Linked DNA regions of Homo sapiens. The protein of the gene in region 1 interacts with the protein of each later gene in a biochemical or structural test. Each region holds a gene or a part of one and is shown in the gene's direction. Other genes may lie near its edges.

Region 1 (3,619 bases):
TCCCCCAACCCTGCGCTCGGCCTAAGCCAGGCTCTCTCTGCAGTGCACTATGCTCGCCCCATCATCATCCTTGGGCCCACCAAGGACCGCGCCAACGATGATCTTCTCTCCGAGTTCCCCGACAAGTTTGGATCCTGTGTTCCCCGTGAGTGCTGGGGCCTTGGATGGAGGAGAAGGTGGAAGTGGGGGTGGGGCAGGGGAGGCCCATCCCTGGGGCCATAGGCAGAGCCTCCTGGGGGATCGGTGTGTAGGGAGATACAGGGTTTCTCCGAGAAGGGGTGCTTCTCAGCCACCCTCTCATTCCATAGTACCCATGCCCAGGCCAGAGACTTGGAGGCCCTGGAGGGTGCTAGGGGAAGCGGTTCTGGCCCTCTGCAGTCTTGGTCTCCCTGGCAGCTCCCTTTCACCAAAGGACCAGCTGGGCACTATGGGGATTTGATTGAAGTAGGCAGGATTTAAGCTAGAGGGATGGTGGTTAGATCTTTGGGGGGTGGGGTGACTTCCTGGCAGATACGACACGGCCCAAGCGGGAGTATGAGATAGATGGCCGGGATTACCACTTTGTGTCGTCCCGGGAGAAAATGGAGAAGGACATTCAGGCGCACAAGTTCATTGAGGCCGGCCAGTACAACAGCCACCTCTATGGGACCAGCGTCCAGTCCGTGCGAGAGGTGGCAGAGCAGGTAGGACCTGGCGGGCACCCGGTCCTCTTCCTTCTCCCCTCTCCCCACCCCACTGCCTCCCTCCAGCTTTCTCTAACTCTCTCTCTCTCTGTCTCTTTCCCTGCTGGGTCTCCACTCCGCTCCTCCACCTCCTTCTCCTCTTGGGCAACTCTGTCTGACTGCCTGCTCTCTGCCCCTGCTCTCTCTCCCACCTCCCTCACTTCCTGACCCCAAATTCCCCACCACCATCTGGCCTCTTTCTCTCCCCACTCCCTTCTCCTTGCCCCATTTCTCCTCTCTTCCCATGGCCTTGTCTTTGGTGGCTTGGCCTTCCCCACTGGGTCCCTCCCTTTTTCCTGACTCCCCGCTGGCCCTCTCCCCTGCCTCACCCTTTTCTGGGGCCCGGCTCCCCTCTCCCACTCCTCTGCTAACTCCTTTCCTTTCCCCGCTGCTCCTCACCCTGCCCTCCCTCCCTCCCTCCACGGTTCCTTTCTCCATCTGCCTCACTCCCTCCCATCTGTCTCCTTGTTCCTTCCATCTGTCTGTCCTCTGTCCGTCCTCCCCTCCCTCCTCCCTCTATCCTACTTCCTTTCTCCTTTTTCTTGGCTTTCCTTCCCGCCTGTGTCACCTCTGCCTTGCACACCCCGCCCCACTCGCTGCTGCCCCGGCTCTGCCACCATCTCTTGGGTCCCTGCCTGCCTGGTGCTCCTCCCTTCCTCCATTCTGTCCTGTCCCTGCCCTCTCCCGTGCTCTCCATCTTCCCTTTCCTTTCCCTCTGTCTTTTACTCTGTCCATACCCGCTTCCTGCCTGACTCTCTGCCCCCGTGTTTCTTGACATCCATGTCACTCCCCTTCGGCCAACTTCCCATTCCCCACCTCTCCCCGTCCGTGTCCCTCCGGCACTGCTCTCTGTCCTTTCTCGCCACCCGCTGGCCCCCCTCCGCCCACCCTGCCTGCCCCCAGGGGAAGCACTGCATCCTCGATGTCTCGGCCAATGCCGTGCGGCGGCTGCAGGCGGCCCACCTGCACCCCATCGCCATCTTCATCCGCCCCCGCTCCCTGGAGAATGTGCTGTGAGTATGGTCCTGGGGGCCTCCCCTTTGCTCCCCCAACACCTGTGGCCCTGGGCCTCACAAGGCGTCTGCGTTCAACTCTCCCTTCAGAACCCTGGACAGCGGTTTCAGCAGCCCCTGAGGGGGATCCCTGGAACCCAGAGGATGTGGGGGAATCGGGTCTTTCCCCTCCTCTCCTGCCTTGGCTAGACAGGACTACATTTCCCAGCAGCCCCTGGGGCATACCAGCTGGGGCGAGTCAGGGCCTCTAGGGCTGTTGGGAATTGGAGTCCGAATCCCATCTCTGGGGCTGAAGGCTGGAAGGATGAAGCTCCGTAGATGTCCCTGGAGTAGCCACACCTGGCTGGGGCGGTTGCGGGTGGCAGGGGGGTGGGGGGTGGTTCTCATCTGTGGCCCCAGAGGATATTGGGAATTGTATTTTTTTTTTTGCTATGTGCTCCAAATAGAAGAATACTTAACATTCCTGGATAGAGGAGATAAAAGGCAGGGTCAGGTGGGTCCAGTCTCAGGCCTGCTCTCCCTCCCTCTTCACAGAGAGATTAACAAGCGGATCACAGAGGAGCAAGCCCGCAAAGCCTTCGACAGAGCCACCAAGCTGGAGCAGGAGTTCACAGAGTGCTTCTCAGGTGAGGCCACAGCAAGGCTGTTGCCAGCATGTAGGGTGCCCTTGCTCGGATTAGAAAGAGCTCCCCCGCCACCCCCAGTGGATGGCTTAGAAAGAGGTGCCCCTGTGGGCGCGGCATGGTGGCTCACGCCTGTAATCCCAGCACTGGCGGGCACCTGTAATCCCAGCTACTCGGTAGGCCGAGGCAGGAGAATCGCTTGAACCTGGGAGGCAGAGGTTGCAGTGAGCCGAGATCGCACCACTGCACTCCAGCCTGGCGCTAAGAGCAAAACTCAATCTCAAAAAAAAAAAAAAAAAAAAAAAAGAGGTGCCCCTGTGGGCGGGTGCAGCCCCAGGACTTATGGCTTGGAGAGTTGGAAAGAGGTGCCCCTTCCTCTGGGCTGGTGCAACCCCCTTGGCCAGGTGTCCTCTGGCCCTTCCTTGGCCTCACTCCCTGCTCCACCCCACTCCCAGCCATCGTGGAGGGTGACAGCTTTGAGGAGATCTACCACAAGGTGAAGCGTGTCATCGAGGACCTCTCAGGCCCCTACATCTGGGTTCCAGCCCGAGAGAGACTCTGATTCCTGCCCTGGCTTGGCCTGGACTCGCCCTGCCTCCATCACCTGGGCCCTTGGTCTGGACTGAATTGCCCAAGCCCTTGGCTCCCCCCGGCCTCCCTCCCACCCCTTCTTATTTATTTCCTTTCTAACTGGATCCAGCCTGTTGGAGGGGGGACACTCCTCTGCATGTATCCCCGCACCCCAGAACTGGGCTCCTGAACGCCAGGAACCTGGGGTCTGGGGGGGAGCTGGGCTCCTTGTTCCGAGCCCTTGCTCCTTAGGATCCCCGCCCCCACCTGCCCCCAATGCACACACAGACCCACCGGGGGCCACCTGCCCTCCCCCATCCTCTCCCACACACATTCCAGAAGTCAGGGCCCCCTCGAGGAGCACCCGCTGCAGGGATGCAGGGCCACAGGCCTCCGCTCTCTCCTAAGGCAGGGTCTGGGGTCACCCCTGCCCTCATCGTAATTCCCCATGTTCCTTGATTTCTCATTTATTTTTTCCACTTTTTTTCTTCTCAAAGGTGGTTTTTTGGGGGGAGAAGCAGGGGACTCCGCAGCGGGCCCCTGCCTTCCACATGCCCCCACCATTTTTCTTTGCCGGTTTGCATGAGTGGAAGGTCTAAATGTGGCTTTTTTTTTTTTTTTTCCTGGGAATTTTTTTGGGGAAAAGGGAGGGATGGGTCTAGGGAGTGGGAAATGCGGGAGGGAGGGTGGG
Region 2 (3,649 bases), on another chromosome or scaffold:
GTAGAATGTTTCCACATTGTCTCTGAGTTAAAATCTCTGGTGTTTTCAAATTTTAGCTGTATTGTGACATTCGAACTAATAAAGATTCCCTGAAACTTAAATCCATTTTGTTGTGCCTTCTGTATGTCTGGTGCCGTGTCAGGTGTGCAAAGCTGGATGAGAGAGGTATTTCCCTTCAGGTGCTTTTTGTGCACTTGTAGGTAGCAGAGAAATGACATGTGTGTAATAAAACATGACAGACACAAATATGAATTTTAAATTCTTTATTACATACTGCCTGGTACTGTCACTATTGGTGAATGGACTTCATCATGCCTGCTAAACTAGAAGTTTCTTGAGGATCAGGAGTATGAGTAGCCATCATCATATTGTATGTCCCTGCCCTGTGTGTGTATTTTGAAGATTACGTTGTTAATAGAAGGAGATACATGTTTGTTTATTTCACTTCAAGAGCTTAGCTAGTGGATGAAGGAAACCTTTTTGAAATCTGATTCTTGATGCCTAAAATTTCAACTTTGTATTCTGGCTGTGGGCATGCAAATTACAAGCAGTGACACTTTCTCAAGCATGATTACAGCTTCTAACCAATTCAAACAATAAAGATAATGGTGGACTGCCTTCACTTGAGTAGACACGATATTTGCTCTTGTCACATGACTACCACTTTGGGAAATTTCAAAAGGATGAGAGACTGTATACGTATCTGAGGTTTTTCCAGGCTACATAGACAAATTTGATTTTTGTATTATTAACCAGTCAATCTTTTCTTTAGAAGACAGATGGAGTTTGTGTATTTGTGTAGTTGTGAAAAAGCAAGATTCTGGAAGTATGTCTTTAGTGGAAAGGAATCAGGTCACATCAGAAATTCTACTTGTCTGTGACTAAAGGGTGATAAAATAGAGAATTTGGTTTAAATGGCTGGTTTTGTGGGTTGAAGCATGCTATGGATCCCATTAAATGTTTTTAAAAAAAAACTCAATAGGGTGATTTCTGGGGTAGTGGAGATGTGCCTTTGTGTGGGAGTCAATAATGAAAATGTTTAAAATTTCACCAAAAAGTACAGCACAGAAGTTTGGCTGTTGGTTACTTTCACCATCCATTAATAAAAAATACTGAAAACCAGACGGTGTGTTAAGGACAGAGTTTTCTTAGGACATATGTGGATGATTTCAGCATTGAATTGTGCTTAGCACAAGATAGACATCTGTGTGTAGACATTGGCCCATGGTATGTTTTTGTTTTTTAACTCACTAGGTGAGAACTTAAGTCTTACTTAAAAGCAGTAAAAAAATTTGTTTCCATTAATAAAATGGTTCCAAAGAATCAGGTGTTAACGTTCCCGCTCCTGATAAATTACAAGTATTTTCACTGTGAGACAGAAGAGTTTTGATCAGAATCAGTTACGTTTTCTTGAGATTGGGATTGGTACAACACTTAAAGAGTACGGACTCTGGATGCAGGCAGCCTGTGTTCAGCATCATGGCTGTGCTTTTAATTAATGGCATGGCCTTAAATATTAAATAGCTTTCTCACTGCCCTGAGCCCCAGTTTCCTCATCTGTACTAGGGAGTTAATACTACTACTACGTTACAGGGTTGCTGTGAGAATTAGCATAAAGCACTTAGAACTTTAGTTAAAAGCTTTAAAAAGTATTAGCAGGTGCTAGTAGCAGTGGCACTGGATATTATTTTAAAGGTGAACTGTTGGACCACTTGGATGCTTTGTTTCTTTGGTTGGGAGGCTTTCTACTAGAGCATTGAAATTCTTTCTTTCTTTCTGTTCACTGACTATTGGACTCATCTCTGCTGTTAGGCTTTAGGAGGGGGAAGTACTTTTTTTAAGTTTTGAATTGTCACACAGGCATCTGGTTATCACTGATGGCAGATGGACTAAGTAAAGAGAGACATCTCTGTTTCTTGGAAAAGGAAGGCCGACAAAGCCTGGGCTGGCACCATGTTGCAGCTATTGAAATACTATTTCCCTGTGGACTTGACTTGTTTAGCTGTATGATACTTCTGAATAAAAGGAATAAACCCCAATGGTTTCATTTAACAGAATTAGGCTTTCGTTAGAAGGCACTATTTTTTACTTGTATAACCTTAGTTGATGGTAAACTTGAAGCTTGTTAGTATCAGTGTAAAGCCATGTGTTGTGAGCTTTCTGTGCCACTATGAATGTTCTAATAGTAGCTTTTTTTTGTAATTTTAGAAGTAGCTAAAATTGCTGCTCTGCCCCAGTAATTCAGGTGGCTCAAGAATGACTTCGTAGGATAGCAAAATTATTTGTTTATGGTAAAGCTAAAAACAAATACTGAAGCTACCTAATCAGGAAAATAATTTGATAATTATAGTTTTGTTTAGGCTGCTGCTGAAATAATAGCTAACTTTAAAAAGTTAAGTCCAAATGTTTTAGTTTAGTTGTGTGGACATTGGAAACTGCTGACTAAAAATAAATGTTTCTGCCTAAACAAAGTGAATTGCAGACTGTTCTTTCCTATTCTGGCTAATAACCAGGTCTTAGTTTTTAGTTGAAATCCATTTTTATAAAATATATACTATAGAGGTTTATATAAAATATATTATTAAAAGCATATTTTGCTTTAAATGTGCAGGGTAAAGTGTTATAATTCCTTCTTCCATGTTGTGCTGGTTTTGTTTATTTGTTTCAGCTGGTTTTTATAAGCTTCCACACACTAAGGAGGTTGGCAAATATGCTTGTATTTAGAGGTGTGACTTTTGTTTTCCTGTTTAAGAGAGGAAATGATCATGACTGTTGCACCAAATAGATAGAGATATATATTTCCTTTAGTTTTAGATACCCTGAGGACTGTGCTGGGAAATTTTTTTTTTGTTTGAGACAGAGTCTCACTCTGTCACCCAGACTGGAGTGCGGTGGTGGCATCTCAGCTCATTGCAACTTCGGCTTCCCAGGTTCAAGTGATTCTTGTGCCTCAGACACCCAAGTAGTTGGGATTACAGGCATGCGCCACCACGCCTAGCTAATTTTTATATTTTTAGTAGATGCAGGGTTTCCCCATGTTGGCCAGGCTAGCCTCGAACTTCTGACCTCAAGTGATCTGCCTGTCTCAGCCTCCCGGAGTGCTGGGATTATGGGCAATGGGCACGAGCCACCATGCCTGGCCTGTGTTAGGAAATTTTTAGGAAAACAGGTTGCCATGGTATCAGTACTATAGTCCACAATAAAACTTGCCTGTTTTGAGACAAAGTTCTGTCTAACACATTGTTAATTTTTCTCTAGTGTTCTTTCTTTCTTTCTTTCTTTTTGTTTTGTTTTGGAGATGGAGTCTCACTCTGTCGCCCAGGCTGGAGTGCAGTGGCGCGATCTCGGCTCACTGCAACCTCCATCTTCTGGGTTCAAGCAATTCTCCTGCCTCAGCCTCCCGAGTAACTGGGATTACAGGCACCCACCACCACACCTGGCCATTTTTTTGTATTTTTAGTAGAGATGGGGTTTTACCACATTGACCAGGCTGGTCTTGAACTTCTGACCTCAGGTGGTCCCTCTGCCTCAGCCTCCCAAAGTGTTGGAATTACAGGCGTGAGCCATTGCACCTGGCCACCTAGTGTTCTTTCTATCACACTCTTTTTCAGGGACAGATGTTGCTGTCTTTCAGATATGAACATAATAA
Region 3 (3,649 bases), on another chromosome or scaffold:
GTGGCAGCAGGCAGGGTGCCAGGTGCTTACTGTCCCTAAGTCCCTAAGGTCCCTGAGGTCCCCACACCCAGGGCAGGAGTTAGCAGGAATCTGGCTACCTCCCCCTTCCAGTATGGAGGGCAGAGCAGGTCTCAGTACAGGGAAAGGTCATGGCCATCAAGCAGGAGAAAGGCACAGGGAGGAAAATCCTTGGAGAGGTCCTGGAAGCATGGCCAGATCAGGCCTGATTTAGTCCTCCCATAGGCCAGAGTCCGGATTGCATTGGTCTTGACCCCAACATGCTGCATAATGGCCATTTGACTTTGATATCTAGTCTGTGCCTTTTGGAAGAAGTGTTACTTTGTAGATGAGGCAGGGATTATGTTGCTTGTACCGGTGAGGAATCTGAAGGTTGGAGAACTCTTGCTGTTAGTGAACTGTGGAGCCAGACCGGAGAGGGATCCCAGGTCCTCCGACTGTCACCCAGTGCTCCTCTAGCTACATAGCACTGACCATTCTCTTCCCCTTTCTCTTCCTCAGTCGAGGTAATTGAGCCTACAGGCTCAGGATGCATTGCCGACTAGAGCAGAGCCCTGCCATCATCCATCCGTTGTCCTAGCTGATCACTTTATCCTGCAGACAGTACACTTGAGGGGTAGGAGGCCTCCTTTAACTGATTAGTCTGCCCCTGGTAAATCTATTGCCGCAATCCTGGGCCCAGAGACCCTCTCCAGCAGGGAGAACACTGTACTGGCCACCCCACTGGCAAGTCAATGCTCCTGATACTTAACCAGCTTAGAAGCCCCCACCTAGGATTTCAGGGCAGCTGCCAACTTTGGCTTTCTCTGTCTCATCCTTCCATTTCCCGTCTCTCCTCCCCCTACCCTACCCTACTCCATTCTGTGCCCTGTCCAGGTCTTCAGAGGCTGCCATAGCTTAGCACTCAACACCTCTTCAGGTAGAGAAATACTCAGCAGACCCAGCAGCCTGGGAGAGCAAACCAAGGCTTACTTTTGCCAGCTTATCCATCTTAGCAGTGAGCTTATTTACCACACATTTATTGAGCACCTACTCTGTCAGACCCTGTGATTTGGACAAGAGATATAGAACTGAACAAGATGTCTGTGTTTTATTGCCCTCAAGGCACTCACAGACTTGCTGAAAAATAGAACCACAGACAAATCTTTCCAGTGTTGAGTGATGAAGGCTGTCATTGAGGCATGCAGTTGCTCTGGGAGTACAGAGGAAAAAGCAGCCAGCCCCACCTGCAGGAGCCTAGAAAGTAGTAGCATTTGATCCAGGCTTCAGAAGAGGCAAAGCAGGGCAGTCCATTGGATGAGAGGGGGCCCATGTGCAAAGTCCCTCCCAAAAGCAGTCGTTTGAGCATGTGTGGCAAGAGCAGAGATGACAAGAAGAACGGGAGGCAGTAGGATGATACGACAAGAAGAACGGGAGGCAGTAGAATGATACGAAGCAAGGGTAGGTTAGGGAAATGGGTTGGGCAGTCTCAGTCTAGCCTTGAATGTCAGGCTGAGGCCTCTTGTGTTGCATAAAAGTTAGTCCAGGAAATGGGTTGGGCGGTCTGAGTCCAGCCTTGAATGTCAGGCTGAGGCCTCCTGTGTTGCATAAAAGTTAGTCCAGGTCTGGCATGGAAGACGGCATAAAGAGGAGCTGGATTGCAGGCAGTGAGACCTGTTGGGAGAATCAAGGATGGCCTAAAAGGGCTGTGGTGAGACCTGGAAGAGGTCTGGAGCAGTGAGGATAAAGAGGCTGGCAAATCATTAGTGCTTGGTTCATGACTGCCATGTGGGCTGATGGAGAGGTAGGAAGGCTCTGGACTAGCTGAAGTGGCTTTGGCCTCTTACAGAGTCCATTCTGGAGCCCTCTGGCTACAGGGAAGCAAGGCCAGCTGTGGCCTTCCTCTGAAGAGGGCAGTGGGCTGCTGTGACTCTGCGTTGTCACAGCTCTGGGCTCCCCAAGGTGCCTGGTATGGCTGGCTTGCCCCGGGCACATCAAGGGGTTCTTTGTCTCCTTCCAGCAGGAGAGTGGGTTGGCTGACCTGGTTGGGGAAGGAATAGGATAAGCGGTGTTGAGCTTCCTGGTCTCTGCCTGGCAGACATATTGGATGATAAGGAAGGATGCAAGGAGAACCAGAAGAGAGGACTGGGGCCTGAGGACATGGAAAACCTACCTTAGGGTGGTATGGCAACTGGGAAGGGTGGGTTTGGGCCTTTGGACACAGCATACACTGATCAAGGGGAGGCACTTGGCAACTGGAGGCTTGTTTGACCTCACCTAGCACCTTTATTCTGTTCTTAGAGGTGGTGCCTTGGCTGGGACAAAACCTGTGAGAAGGCAAACCCCTCAGCACTTACAAGGGGCACCACCAGTGGCATCCGGAGATGAGAGATTCTGGCTGGAAATGTGGATTTTAGGCTAGTGTTTGAGAAAGGGCTCTGAACCAGGCACAGGGTCAGAGTGTCAGTGATGGCTCCACCACTGACCTTTGTAATATGTGACTTAGGCACATCCCTCACCCAACCATGGGGCTAATGCTTCCAGTTTTTTTCACCCAGCACTTACTATATGTGTAGCCCTGTGCTAGGCTCAGGATATAGACCTGATCTTGCCCTCACAGGGAAATCAGACATTAAACAAGTAGTTTCAACCAGTCTGGTCAACATAGTGAGACCCTGTCTCTAAAAAATAAATTAGCTGGGCATGGTGGCACGTGCCGGTAGTCCTAGCTACTACAGAGGCTGAGGCTGAGCCTGGGAGTTTGAGGCTGCAGTGAGCTGTGATTGTGCCACTGCACTCCAGCCTGGGTGACAGAGCGAGACCCCATTTCTAAAAAAAATTTTAAAAAGAGAAAGAAGTTACCAGGTGTGGTTGTATACAAAGGATTGTGAGGATCAAATGAGATAATTGGATTAGGAGCATAGTGTAAACAAATACTGCTGAACGGAGATCTGGAGACCTTAACCCTATGCCTTACTGAGCCACTAACTAGCTGTGTGACCTTGAGAAAGTTGCTTAATCTTGGTTTTGTTTTGTTTTGTTTTGTTTTTTTGAGATGGAGTTTTGCTCTTTTGCGCAGGCTGGAGTGAAATGGCACAATTGATCTTGGCTCACTGCAACCTCTGCCTTCCGGTTCAAGCGATTCTCATGCCTCAGCCTCCCGAGTAGCTGGGGTTTTAGGTGCCCACCACCATGCCCGGCTAATTTTTGCATTTTTAGTAGAGACAGGGTTTTGCCATGTTGGCCAGGTTGGTCTCAAACTCCTGACCTCAGGTGATCCACCCACCTTGGCCTTCCAAAATGCTGGGATTACAGGCATGAGCCACCATGCCGGTCAAAAGTTGCTTAATCTTTTTAACCTCGGTTTTCCCCACATAAAAACTACGCAGTTTGTATGTGTGTGTGTATGTGTGTTTGTTTTTAAGAGACAGGGTCTGGCTCTGTCACCCAGGCTGGAATGCAGTGGTGCAATCACAGCTCACTGCAGCCTCAACCTCCCAGGCACAAGCGATCTTCCCACCTCAGCCTCCTGAGTAGCTGGGATTACAGGCTGAAGCCACCATGCCTGGCTACTTTTTTTACTTTTTGTAGAGACAGAGTCTCACTATGTTGCCCAGGCTGGTTTCAAACTCCTGGGCACAAGCGATCCTCC

What was found.
Region 2: the proteins of DLG4 (region 1) and TBPL1 interact in a test that uses a peptide from one of them, tested with the Homo sapiens proteins (one large-scale study listed by IntAct).
Region 3: the proteins of DLG4 (region 1) and TBC1D10A interact in a test that uses a peptide from one of them, tested with the Homo sapiens proteins (one large-scale study listed by IntAct).

Annotation. Positions count from the first base shown.
Region 1 is NC_000017.11:7,190,009-7,193,627, reverse strand, and holds part of DLG4 (disks large homolog 4), read left to right. Parts: intron 1-43; coding exon 44-145; intron 146-510; coding exon 511-683; intron 684-1,625; coding exon 1,626-1,735; intron 1,736-2,269; coding exon 2,270-2,361; intron 2,362-2,813; coding exon 2,814-2,920; 3' UTR 2,921-3,619. UniProt on the Homo sapiens protein: Postsynaptic scaffolding protein that plays a critical role in synaptogenesis and synaptic plasticity by providing a platform for the postsynaptic clustering of crucial synaptic proteins.
Region 2 is NC_000006.12:133,956,205-133,959,853, forward strand, and holds part of TBPL1 (TATA box-binding protein-like 1), read left to right. Parts: intron 1-3,649. UniProt on the Homo sapiens protein: Part of a specialized transcription system that mediates the transcription of most ribosomal proteins through the 5'-TCT-3' motif which is a core promoter element at these genes. Seems to also mediate the transcription of NF1. Does not bind the TATA box.
Region 3 is NC_000022.11:30,316,811-30,320,459, reverse strand, and holds part of TBC1D10A (TBC1 domain family member 10A), read left to right. Parts: intron 1-3,649.